Regions from separate parts of the Homo sapiens genome. Here region 1 is linked to region 2. A link means that fine-mapping ties the variant in region 2 to the plasma level of a protein whose gene starts in the linked region. Region 2 holds a variant in brackets. A gene starts in the other region. All regions are shown on their reverse strands.

Region 1 (2,991 bases), not on the chromosome of region 2:
CACCTGTAAAGTAGGAATAGTAACAGTACTAATCCCTAAGTCCATTCTTCCGATGGATGGAAATGGATAATGTATGTAAATATTTACCTTGGAGCTTGGCACGTGGTGAGCATTCAAAAATTGTTTTTACAATATTTTTAAAAATACTATTGTTTTGACTATGAGAACAATTTCGGAATTGTTGTGTTCTCTGATCCCACAGTAAGTAAGGTACCAATGAAGTAGGAATATTTAACACCTTACTTTTATACACAATACAATGCTCTGAGGCAGCAGCACCATCCCCGTCATGCATAACTCATGAAGTGCTGGGCTGAATTCACAGAGCACCTTTGCAATTTATAGGGCAAAAATTAGGTGCCGTGAAGAATACACAGAAGTATGGATACAGCCACTGCCCCCCAGGGAACTGACCATCCAGTTAGGAGACACACACACAAAGAGATCACCGCAATGATGCCTTGTACTGTTAAGTGGCCAAAGACGTACAGTTTCTTATAGTATCTTTTATGGTGGGCAGAAGAACGCCCTGCATTTTGGGGAAAGCTACAAGTGCAGAGATTTGCCCCCGTGGTAAGACAGCAAATCAGTGAGAGCTACAGAGTAAGGTTGTAATATCATATTCATTTGGGTTAAAATGGAGGTGCTGTGGTAGCAGTGGCCTGACTTAAAGAAGGACCAGTGATATCAAACAGTAGCTGCTTGGCTTTGGAATGACACCATCATTGCCATCTTAGAATCTGAGAATGTTTCAGTCAAGAGGAAACCTTGAAAAAGCCTCCTTGTCACTCAGTCCACTTACAGTAGGAGCAGCAAGGCCTGTTCTTACACATGCGGGCTCCGGCTCATGCATCCACCTGATGCTCTCAAGGCTGCCAGAGGAAGGAGGAGGAGGGCTAGGGGAGGAAGCCAAGGGTATCCCACAAAGGAGATGACCACTGATAACTACCATGGATGAAATGGCCTAAGTCACTTCTGTGTCTTAGCCTTTCCTTTCAAATTGCCCCCTCCCCCTCCCATGTATCATGGGCATCACAGTCACAAAACACAAGAAATCAGAAGTCTGGAGACATTCCCCCTGTCCAATGCCCAAATCTAGGTCCCTGTTGCTTTCTTCCTGACCTGCTGGCCCACAACCACAGGTGGCCTCCAGAATTAATCCAAATGAGAGTCTCTGCCCTTCCAAAACATCTTAAGTGGATCATTCATCTCAGGCCACCTTCAGTGACAGGAAGGGGATTGAGGTCTGCGGAGAGCAAAACCTAATTCGGCCCTGTACCTGGATGCGGATGGGGTGGGGGAGGCGCGACGGGAGGCTGGGTACTCCAAGTTCAGCTGCGGGAGACGCCCCTCGCCCCCACCTGGCAGCCACAGAGGGTCGCCAGCCTAGGGGAGATGGTTCCTGCTGTCTTCAAATGAGCCCACCAAACCCCAGCCCGTGGGTATCGCAGCACCTACCTTGACCCAGGAGACCGTGTAGGGAACCTGCGGATCCCAGGGGGCGGTGCAGGGCAAGTCCACATCTTCGGAGCAAGCCACCTTCACCTCCGGCGTCGCGGGAGCCAGGCTGTAGGCTACAAGAAAGAGAGAGCGCGTCGTGAGCAAGCGACCGACGGGAGGGGGTGTCGTGGAGGGGCGGGGGGCGACAGGCGAGACAGGCGCTCGCGAGCCCTACCGCAGCTCAGGAGCAGAAGCTGGAGGCCGCGCGACATGGCTGGAGCGCTGCGCCGCTGCCACGAGCTGCAGAGCTGTGGCGCGCGGGCGCCGGCTGCCCTTTTATGCCCGCGCGTTCGGGAACTTCCCTGCGCGCCAGCCCGGGGGATTCCCCGGCGGGCAGCGGAAGCGGGTGGCGCGCCCTCCTAGTCCCGCTTAGGCCGGGGCGCCCCCGTCCCCGCCCCCTTCGCCCCCGTCCCCGCCCCCGTCCCCGCCCCCGTCGCACCCGCCGCCCTCGCCGCGTGCGCGTCCCCGCCCCCGCGCGCCCGGGCCGGGCGCCCCGAGTTCGCGTCGCTGCTGCGGCTGGCAGCGGCGACAGCAATCCCCGCGTGACGCCCAGCGCTGGGGGCTTTGCAGACCGCGCTCGCGCGCGTGACGCTGCCGTTGACCCGCAAAAGGAAGCCGGGAACCGGGCCATCCGAGCGGGATCTGCCCATTTTACGGAGGCCAAACCAGATTCCGAGAGGGTGGGCAACTTCCTCAGAAGCCCAGCCTGTCCTTGGGAACGCACTGGTGAACCCAAGTCCTCACTCTTCTCCAGAATCTGTGATAATCAAAGGCGCGTTAGATTTCCATGGAAACATACAAGTCTGTAGTACTTGGCTCCCTGCCTTCCCCGGGAGGTTATCAGTCAGTACCGTCCTGTTTAAATTATATCACCAAAGGAGAGTGTCTCCTATTAAAATAATAATTACACGCATACACAACATTTTTGGAAAAGAAAATTCTAGAAGACAATGAAATCACCTGTAATTCATCCAGGAAGTAACTTCAGTTAACATTTTTTTATATTATAAAATGTTTATAACATAACATAACGTAAAATATTTATAACATTTGTCAGTGCACAGATTGGTATTTTTAATGGTTTATTCTTCCTGCTATCTTGTAACCTACTTTCTTTTAGCTTAATAATTTGCAAGCGGTTCCACATCATTAAAAACTTCCAACAGCATCATTTTGGTCCATTGTTCAGTTGCACCATAAATTAGAATCGATTAGTGTTAGACATACAGGTTGTTTCTTTTTGTATTACTAATATTAGAAACAATACTGTGATTGCTATGGGAAACTTCAGTGTAGATAAATCTTTGCTCTAAAATTGCTTATTTTCTTAGAATAAATACCTCAAGGAAATTGTGCTAGGTGAAGGGGAGTTTCCAATTTTGTCAAATATTGCCAAAAAATTACCTGCAAGGAGGTGTCTTCAATCTATATTCCCATCTGCAAAGAGAGTGCCTGTTTGCCAACACAAACTGTTATCCAACCTTTCTATCT
Region 2 (2,500 bases):
CCCAGACCTACATGGCCATGTACCTCACCTACTCGCTCCACCTGCCCAAGGTGAGCAGATTGGGGCGGGGACGCTGGGATGGGACGGCCCCAGCCTGGCGAGCCATGACTGACACGGCATGCCTGGCTCTGCCTCCGCAGAAGTTCATCGCGACCATTCCCCTGGTGATGTACCTCAGCGGCTTCTTGTCCTCCTTCCTCATGAAGCCCATCAACAAGTGCATTGGGAGGAACGTGAGTGGGCGGGGACCGGGGACAGCTGGGGCGGAGGATGGGGTGCCCTGCAGCCGAGATCCCACCCGCTCCGGGTTCCATCCTCGGATGCTCTCAGGCCTCCGAGTTCCCGCCTTGTAGAAGCCCCAGATCTAGGCCGGGCACGGTGGCTCACGCCTGTAATCCCAGCACTTTGGGAGGCCGAGGCGGGCGGATCACGAGGTCAGGAGATCGAGACCATCCTGGCTAACACGGTGAAACCCCGTCTCTACTAAAGATACAAAAACAAAATTAGCCGGGCGTTGGTGGCGGGTGCCTGTAGTCCCAGCTATTCGGGAGGCTGAGGCAGGAGAATGGCGTGAACCCGGGAGGCGGAGCTTGCAGTGAGATGAGATCACACCACTGCACTCCAGCCTGGGCGACACAGCGAGACTCTTGTCTCCAGAAAAAAAAAGCCCCAGATCTGGGAACAAGGAATTCTAGGATCCTGGCTTCTCTGTGTCTCGAGTTTATACACTCGCAGCCATGGAGCTCTGGCGCTTTCTGTCCACCCTGTGCAGCTACTGAGGGCTTGAAATGTGGCCGTGGGGACTGAGCCGAGTCCGTCGTTTGCTTTCGTTGTAACTGACCTGCGCTCAGGCAGAATAGCCACACGTCTCCAGCCGCTACGGCGTGGACAGAGAGCACAGCTCTGGCATGGAGGATCTGCAGAGCCTCGGTGTTGTGTCCAGGGCCAGAGCCAGGGCTCCTTAGGGACCATCCAGCTCATGCCTTGTTTGCTGGGGTTGGGGGTAGGGGTGGCGGATTGAAGCGCCAGGCTTGGGGGCACCCAGTGGTGTGGGCCTGACCCCGGGGCTGTCCCTGCAGATGACCTACTTCTCAGGCCTCCTGGTGATCCTGGCCTTTGCCGCCTGGGTGGCGCTGGCGGAGGGACTGGGTGTGGCCGTGTACGCAGCGGCTGTGCTGCTGGGTGCTGGCTGTGCCACCATCCTCGTCACCTCGCTGGCCATGACGGCCGACCTCATC[G/A]GTCCCCACACGGTAGGGCTGGTAGCCAGGCTGGGGTGGGGGAGGCCGGGTCCTAGATCTCGGGGTGCACGCTGACCACCTCGCCTGTGTCTCCACAGAACAGCGGAGCGTTCGTGTACGGCTCCATGAGCTTCTTGGATAAGGTGGCCAATGGGCTGGCAGTCATGGCCATCCAGAGCCTGCACCCTTGCCCGTGAGTGCCGCTGTTCGTTCATTCATTCTTTTGTTCAGTAAGAGGGGATTAAGCGCCTGCTGTGTGTCCAGCAGTGTTCTGGGTCTGGGCATCCAGCTGTGGACCAAAGACACCTGCCCCAATGGGAGTCATAGGCAGGGGAGACCTTTCCTTTCTTCCACTGAGCACTTCGTTTATTCACTCAACAAACGTTGGGTCCATGTGTGCAGTGCTGAAGACACCGTACAGAAATATATCGGGGGTGGGCCCAGCTGGAAGGGAGCCCCGAGTCCGTGTAACCCAGACCCACAGAACTCAGGGTTCAGACATGGATGGTTCTAGACCACAGCATCACAGCATTCACGCCTGTAGAGGCCCAGGGCCTGGAAACCACAGCCGGTCTGGGCCTGGGGCAGAGCCAGCCGTGTTAATAGTCACAGAGGTGAACATGTGGTTGGTACCGGCGTGGGTGGTGTGTAAAGGTGAACGCTCAGAGAAACCTGGACAGCCAGGGCAGGAAGCCAGGGAGGGCTTCTTGGAGGAGGTGACGTGGCCCTGACACCTGCAGGATGTCAGAGCATTCCAGGCCAATGGGGAGGGACAAGTAGTGCCAAAGCCCTGGGGCAGGACCACACCTGGCATGTTGTGTTGGAAGAACAGGGAGGAGGCCTGTGTGGCTGGAGTAGAGGGAGGAGGGGAGGGCAGGTCGTGCAGGGCCTGGTGGGCCATGGGGAGGACTTAGGGGATTTGACCCTGAGGACAGTGGGACTCACAGAGAGCTGTGGGCAGAAGAGGGACAGGCCCTGACCCAGGCGCTCACAGACGCCCTCTGGTGGTTGCTGCCGGGAGGACAGCTGCTGGGGGAGAAGTTGCAGCCTGGGACCGGGGCGGGTGCAGGCGGGCCATGCTGGGGCTGGACCATGAGGAGACAGGGAAGGGGAGACATGGTGGATTTGGCATGGATGCTGGAAGCAGGGCCCACAGGACTGGCCGAGCTGTTGGGTGTGGGACAGGAGGGAGGGAGTGGCAGGGCCCCCAGCTCCTGGATTGGACAGGACGGAGCCGCTGTCGGGGGTGAGGGGAGGCACAG

Which allele goes with the higher level. Alleles are on the strand shown, and positions count from the first base shown. The strength of an association depends on the size of the effect and on how common the allele is.
For the plasma level of the protein whose gene starts at base 1,752 in region 1, allele A in region 2 goes with a higher level than allele G (weak association).

What was found. PIP is the chance, under the fine-mapping model, that this variant and not a neighbour inherited with it causes the effect. Protein levels are from antibody-based Olink assays in UK Biobank. Linkage for the fine-mapping came from a reference panel and not from the study's own genotypes, which makes the PIPs less certain.
Region 1: CD83 starts here. The variant in region 2 is fine-mapped to the plasma level of the CD83 protein (UK Biobank, PIP above 0.99).

What each region holds. Positions count from the first base shown.
Region 1 is chr6:14,116,533-14,119,523 of GRCh38, reverse strand. It overlaps CD83 (CD83 molecule), which reads right to left and starts at 1,752. Exons shown (of 5, transcript NM_004233.4): 1 at 1,676-1,752; 2 at 1,459-1,574. The coding sequence starts at 1,712. RefSeq lists cis regulatory regions at 455-955, 423-1,249, 820-1,320, 1,486-2,141, 1,325-2,141 and 1 more and silencers at 1,885-2,004, 2,132-2,426.
Region 2 is chr19:3,545,005-3,547,504 of GRCh38, reverse strand. It overlaps MFSD12 (major facilitator superfamily domain containing 12), which reads left to right. Exons shown (of 10, transcript NM_174983.5): 5 at 1-50; 6 at 141-233; 7 at 1,080-1,250; 8 at 1,337-1,431. Among named protein-coding and RNA genes, the nearest start is that of TEKTIP1, 7.1 kb to the right of the region's middle. The variant G/A (reference allele first, on the strand shown) is at 1,239.